Homo sapiens: one gene and its partner. The protein of the gene in region 1 interacts with the protein of each later gene in a pairwise test. Each region holds a gene or a part of one and is shown on either strand. Other genes may lie near its edges.

Evidence for each region.
Region 2: the proteins of RCBTB2 (region 1) and TMEM132D interact in a two-hybrid assay, tested with the Homo sapiens proteins (one large-scale study listed by BioGRID).

The regions. Positions count from the first base shown.
Region 1 is NC_000013.11:48,491,540-48,495,168, reverse strand, and holds part of RCBTB2 (RCC1 and BTB domain-containing protein 2), read left to right. Parts: intron 1-3,629.
Region 2 is NC_000012.12:129,697,905-129,701,724, reverse strand, and holds part of TMEM132D (transmembrane protein 132D precursor), read left to right. Parts: intron 1-1,026; coding exon 1,027-1,915; intron 1,916-3,820. UniProt on the Homo sapiens protein: Regulate neuronals morphology via inhibition of the WAVE regulatory complex (WCR), a complex that controls F-actin cytoskeletal dynamics.

The DNA of each region.
Region 1 (3,629 bases):
GGAAACAGGCTGTAACATCTTCGAGTCAGTTTCCTTTTGGTATAAGGATATCCTCTCCTTTGGTCAAAGAAAACAGAGACATTTTAGTAGATGAAAGGTTATAACTTTTTTTCTGTTTACATAAATAATACTATGCTTATTAAAGAAAATTTGTAAAAGACAAAAAGTGAGGAAGGTAATGACTCATCAACCAGAGAACATTAGCACTTTCATATAACAGCTTCTGAGTTTTTGTTTTATGTCACATTATATATTTGTAAATACTTGAAACCTAGATTTTTTTTCACTTAACATTAAAAAAAAAGTACTACCTCAAAACAATGACATTTAACAGCACAGTGAATGTTTTATATCAAGGCAATAACATATTGGGCACTTACAACACAGAATGTTTCATGGTCAGACAAAATCCATGCACTTTTCCTAGTCCATTCTTGAGCATCACAGTGATGAGCCACGGTGATGGAGGGCCATCTCAGATGTCAAGATGGTGGCACGTGGTGTTTGCATCTGAATCAGGCTTCATTTTTAATACTTTTTTATATTCTCTATTTATGTGAATTATTTGTCTGGCTACCTTCCAGCTCTCTGTTTTCTAGAAAGTAAGCTCTTTGAGGCATGGCAGGGACTTTGTTTTGCTCACAACCATATCCCCAGCGCCTAGGACGGTGTCTGACACAGAGTAGGTACCTACTAAATACCCCTTTCATGGATGTTCAGTTTTGCCTATAGAGATGCACTGTTGTACTACAGCCTGTCCAGCTAATTGCTGTACCCTAAATTAGTATAATAGACTATAAGTAAAATAGACTGTATATGTACTTAATGTAAAATACAAGCTTTCGTAAATAAAGAACAGTGCTGTATTTGATTTGCCTGGCTCAAATAAGCAAGAAATGGGCTCTTTCAGCAAATTATTATCCCTCATGCTGGACTGTCACTTAGTACATAATTAATATGAGCCAGGGATTATTCTAAGCACAGTTCATGTTTCATTTACTCCTCAAAACAACCTTATATGACATAGGCATTATTATATTAGATCCAGTTTATAAATGAGAAAACTGAAGCTTGGAAAGATTAAGTAATCTGAGTAAACTAGTAAACTGCAAAACTGGGATACAGTCCAAGATTGGGCACATTTTAAAACCGCATGTTTAACTACAATTCTCCATTGTCCTCAGTATTTTGAAATCAGGAGTATTTATGCATGGATTCAACAAATATTCACTGAGTGCCTGCTACATGCCTGGCACTGCCCTACGCACTGGGGTACTGCAAATGAACAAAACAATCCAAAATCTCTGCTCTCATGGGAATTTCTGGTGAGGGGAGATAGGTGATCAATAAATGAATAGGATATATAGTATGTCAGATGGTGACAAGTGATATGGAAAGAAGTAAGACAGGGAAGACAGCCTAGGGAATGCCATCCTGAGATGAAAGTTGAAATTTTAAATAGAATGGTCAGGGAGGCAAGACATCAGTGAGCAGGTGACTCAAGCAGAGACCTGAAGGAGGTGTGGGTGGTGTGTTCTGGGAAAAGCAAGCCCGGTGTGGAGGGAGCACAGTGGGGAGGGAAGTAGCTGATGAGGCAGGGAGATGGTGCGGTGGAGGTGCACAGTGGCGTGTGTGGGAGGAGGCAGGGCCTGCAGAGTCCATAGGCAAGTTTCAGGAATCAGAGTTCCAAGGTGAGTGGCCATCAGAGGGTTTGGAGAGGAGCAGATATGATGGGCATTTGAAGTAATCCTCCTGCCTCCTGGCTGCTGTGTTGAGGAGGGAGGGAGGGAGGTAGGGAGAGAGAGAGAGGGTGAGAGAGAGAAGAGAAGAGAGAGAGAGAGAGAGAGAGAGAGTGTGTGTGTGTGTGTGTGTGTGTGTGGAGAGAGAGAGAGGGTGAGAGAGAGAAGAGTGTGTGTGTGTGTGTGTGTGTGTGTGTGTGTGTGAAGGAGGGTACTTAGGAGGCTGTATAATCCAGTAAGTGATGATGGTGGATTGGTCCAAGTTATCACCTGTGGGGATGGTAAAAAGTGGTTAAGATTTTGAATACATTTTGAAAGTAGAGCCAACAGGATGTGCGGATGGATTAGATGTGAGGAAAAAAAAGACGACTGAGGAGGTTCTGTCCCTCAGCAGCTGTAAGGATGAAAGTGGCATCTATTGAGATATAGAAGATAGGAGCAACATTTTGGGGGAAATATCAGAAATTTGGTTTTGAATATGAGAAGTATGTGATGTCTATTAGACATCCAAATGGAAATGTCTAATAAGCAAATTGGATAAGCAAGCCTGGAAGTCAGAGAGAAATGTGCTGAAGTCAAAGCTATGAGGCAGTGACGTGAGACAGGTTTGAAGATTAAGTCCTGAGCACTCTGTGCTTAGAGGTTAAGGAGATAAGGAGACACCAGCAAAGGAGACTGAAGAGGAGTGAGCAGTAACGGAAGAGAGAAACCAGCAGACCGTTTCCTGCAGGCTGGGAAAGAAAGCGAAACAGGAAGGAAGAAGTCCGAACCACACCAGATGCTGCTGGCACGTCTGCACGAGGACTGAGAACTGACGAGTGGGTTTGGCGATGAGAACGCCGGAGGGGCCTTGGCAAGCAGTTTTAGCGCAGTGAGGCGGGAAGTCTGATCGGAGCGTGGAAGTAGAGGAACTGAAGATGGGGAATAGAGGCAGCTTTTCATGGTAATTTTATTATAAAGATAAAAAGGAAGAGCTTTGGGGCATTTGAGGTAAAACATCTTTACTTTTTTAAGATGTGGGAAATGGAAGCTTGTCTAATGATGCAAATGACTCAGTGAAGGGGAACAAGCCAGTGATGCAGGGGACAGTTGGTAGAGCAGGGCCCCTTAGTAGGTGGAGCAGTGGGATCTAGTGACAGAGCAAGGGCTCTGCTTTCTATAGGGTCTTGGACCTTTGATCCAGAGAAGATTGCATCCACAGGCCTCTCTGTAATAGGCAAGGAGACGTGGTGGGGAGAGCTTGTGGAGGTTCTTTTCAAGTGATTCTGGTTCTCAGTGAAATAGGAAGTCATGTCAGCTGAGGATGAGGATGAGAGGGGAGATGTCAGGCTTATGGGGAGAAGTATGAGAGTCCTGTAGGAGAATGAGCAAACTAGGAGAATGTGGTAGGACTGCAGGACAGAACAGAGGGCCCCATTTTGAACATGAAGCCATACAGAGTGGTAGCATTCAAAATAGACTACAATTCTTTAACTGAAAAATAATGGGGGCCTTGTTTTCTATGGACAGAATTCCCCTATAACCAGTACCACCACCCTATGCCAATTTATTGAATTCTTAGAATCACAGGAACTCTTTCCAAGTCCTGTCCTTAATTTAGTATTTAGGGGAAGATCCCACTCTAGAATAAAGTAAAGGAGCATGGATCCAAGTGATAACTTTTTAGGGTCCTTTCATTCTCCCATTAATTAGCAATTTTCCTGATGCTGTCCAGATCTGTGAGGCATCAAACTGCCCAGCCACCTAACTCCAGACACACTCTAATGTGTGTGGTGTAGGTATGAATTCCTCCATTCCTCTCTGTAGACTTCAGCCAAAGAGATGATGCATCTCTATCTGGTTTCACTTTTGTGTGCTGTAGGCAAAAATGTCATTTCTAAAAATTTAAGC
Region 2 (3,820 bases), on another chromosome or scaffold:
TAGTTTACATTTCTAAAACTCCTTAAATTGGTTCTTTGGATTATGCAATTGCTCTGCCTGCATTTTTCTTACAGAATGTAAGGCAACTTGTGAAAATAACATTTTGGATTTTTCTCCCCCTGAGGGAGAGATACGTTCAGTGCGGAAAAATGAACAATGGATTTTGTTCGTTGGTGACGGCGTAGTGTCCACAGGATGTGGCTGGCATGGAAGCGAGGTGCTGCCCTTCCCGTGCTTCTTAGGTTCAGGGTCCAGTGTTTCATAGATGACTTGGAGCATTGCTTTGTACGCCCGGCCCTGACACATTGGTGTCGTGGTCACCTCATCTCATCTATTTCTAGAGGGCCCCTCCCAATATATCCTTCCAAGGTATTTTCTCTGCATCTCTCCCCTTAACTCCAACTGGGGGCGGGTGTCCACTGTCCATGTGATTTATGATTGTGCATCTGCGTCTATTTTTGCCCCAAGTCTGTTAGCATTTCCCATTGGACATGTGCGTATATGCAGAACGTGCATATGAGTGGAACACAAAGGAATATGTATCAGGTGGAATGTGGACGTGGCATCAATCCATGTGTTGAGGAAGTCATTCCTGTTTCCAATCTCAGTCTGTGTTGAGTCAATGGGACGGTGCCTCTCTGTCGATGGTAGCTTGTCTGTGACAGCTTTCTAACACTTGCTAATCTCTCCTTTGATCAAAAAAAGAGCAAGTCTTTACCATAACCCCATAAAAACACCATTATCACGAGTGGAAATTTTAAAACTGTATTTGAATTGTATTTATTTGCATGCTCAACTTTTTTATAGGTTAAATGATACTGGTTTTCTACTTAGGTTGGTGGCATTTATTTCTTCTGAAACAAATAATATGAAGCGAGTAGATTGGATTAAGAGGTTTGGATAAGGAATTGCATAATTGGCGCGAAGACAGGGTCCTCTGTTATGAAGGGGGCACGCAGATGTCTGAAATGCTGGTAACAGGACCTTAGCATTACTAACGCCTGCACTGCGATTCCCTCCCCACAGTGACGGAAGGTCGAGGGATCCTTGAGAGCATCCAGAGGTTTTCCTTGCTGCCCACCTACCTCCCCGTGACCTACCACATCAACAACGCGGACGTCTCCTTCTTCCTGAAGGAGGCCAACCAGGATATCATGAGGAACTCCAGCCTGCAGTCCCGGGTGGAGTCATTTCTGATTTACAAATCCAGGAGGCTGCCTGTCCTCAATGCCAGCTACGGGCCTTTCTCCATCGAGCAAGTGGTGCCCCAGGATTTAATGCTACCTTCCAACCCATTTGGATTCACCAACAAATTTTCTCTTAACTGGAAACTAAAAGCCCACATCCTGCGGGACAAAGTCTACCTGAGCCGGCCCAAAGTGCAGGTTCTGTTCCACATCATGGGCAGAGACTGGGACGACCGCAGCGCCGGGGAGAAGCTGCCGTGCCTGAGGGTCTTTGCTTTCCGAGAGACCCGAGAGGTGCGGGGCAGCTGCCGGCTGCAGGGGGACCTGGGGCTGTGCGTGGCCGAGCTGGAGCTCCTGTCCAGCTGGTTCAGCCCCCCCACGGTGGTTGCCGGGAGGAGGAAGTCCGTGGACCAGCCGGAGGGGACCCCCGTGGAGCTCTACTACACCGTGCACCCAGGGGGTGAGAGAGGGGACTGCGTCAGGGAAGACGCGAGGAGAAGCAATGGGATCCGGACAGGCCACAGTGACATCGATGAGTCCGGGCCCCCCTTGCAGAGGATCGGGAGCATCTTCCTTTATCAGACACACAGGAAACCCTCCCTGAGAGAACTGCGTCTGGACAACAGCGTGGCCATCCACTATATACCAAAGACCGTGAGGAAAGGAGACGTGCTGACTTTTCCTGTTTCCATCTCCAGAAATTCCACTGAAGATCGCTTCACGTTGAGGTAAGTCGTTTCCCAATGTCTGTCTGTACCCGCCCGTCGATCAGGTGGTGTTTTCCAGAAGCTGTTTGACCAGAAAAGCTGTGTTATCGCTCACCGAAGTAGAGCCGGCCTTCCCGTTCTTACAAACTCCATCTGCACCGTGGAATACAGAGACCAGTCTGATCGTTCCGGGTTGGCAATTGGGTTGTGAGAATATTCGTCTTAATAGATTTTCCAAGCCATTGATAGGGCAGCCGGGGGGCTGCTGATGGTACGCCTTTTCCCTTAGCTTAGGGTATTATCAGCAAGTTTTGGGAATGCTAAAATTATCCAAGAAGGCTTTTCAAAATTGGGAGAGTTAAATGCCTCACAGCTGAAATGAGACTGCAAATGAAATGGCAACAGTTGTCAGAAAGGACAGGGAACACGGTTTTGCCAACTCAAAATCTATTCCAGATATGTAAGTTCTAAGTATAATATGGTACCAACCTCAAAGTTACCATTTTGTTTCTCCCTGGAAATAGAACTTAGTGTTCAAAAAAATAAATGAGCATAACGTGTGAAGAATATACAGTAGAATTTGTTGAGTTTCTTATATAAGAATATACCAAAGAGAAGACATTGAAAATAAGCTCTGTGTACTTTAGAATAAATATAGGCTGGTTTTCACTGTGGAATATAACGTATGAGAGAAGCTACTTGCCTAGGCTTGTTTGTATTTTCATTATATAGTTTTAGTTTTATTTTCAACACAGGCAAGTTTGATTACAACAGCTGTTTAGTAGAAGTGTTTTTGGGTTATTAAAAATGTCCTAGCACTGCTACATAACTCAACAATTTGACCTGATGTGCAATGTAATAAAATGTGTGTTATGACTCCTGAAATGAGGAGTGTAACTGTATGTAAGACATGTTTCATATGTGGGCTTATAAACTTCATCCAATGATGACCAGCTCTCTATCCCCCTTCATATGGGATTTATGGCTGCTTTTTCTAGCTTTTCTTTTCTTCTTTTCTTTTTTCTATTCTTTTCTTTCTCCCTCTCTTTCTCCCTCTCTCTTTCTCCCTCCCCTCTCCTCTTCCCCCTCCCCTCCCTTCTCCCCTCTCCCCTCCCCTTTCCTCCCCTTTCTCCTCCCCCTCCCCTCCCCATCTCCTCCCCCTCCCCTCCCCTCCCCCTCCCCCTCCCCTCCCCTCTCCCCTCCCCTCCATGCCGTCTCCCCTCCCCTCCCTCCCCTCCCCCCTCCCCTCTCCCCTCCCTTCTCCCCTCCCTTCTCCCCTCCCCTCCCCTCCCTTCCCCTCTCCCCTCCCCTTTTTTCCTTTATGTTTAAAGGGTGGATGAGTTTAAGAAAATAAATCACCGTTTTGATTCTACCTTGCACATTTAAGTTTATTTGATTGTGACCTAGTATTAGAAATGCCTATTTTAACTAAAGAAACAGAACCTAATGGACATGCATCTAATGACTGAACTTGGCTAAGTCCTGGAAGGTAAAAACCTTTGGCCTGGCTGGACGTGCCATTCGCGGAATAGCCGCAGGGATTTAGGGTACAGGAACACATCTGCGCTGGCCAAGCCTTCATTAGCGTTCCCTTCCGTCCTTCTGGAAATCGGATCTAGATCCAGCTGGCCACAGGTCCTCAATGAGGTCTGCTAGCTTTGTGTTTTACTTTTCTGGGTTCAACAGTCTTACATAGTATTCTTTGTGAGGATGGCTGCTTACGTAGAGAAATATTTTGGTGGTGGAAACAAAAAGTTTGAATAGGGGAGCTTTGATCTTACACCGTTTCATACCGTCTGCCATTTTTTAGGTCCGCCAACGACTGACTTGATTTTCTGAACGCAGGATTAAACACTGCAATCCCCTGAAGCTTTGACTCTCAGGAGATGAGAGCCACATGCAGCTTGTGTGTGTGTGTGTGTGTGT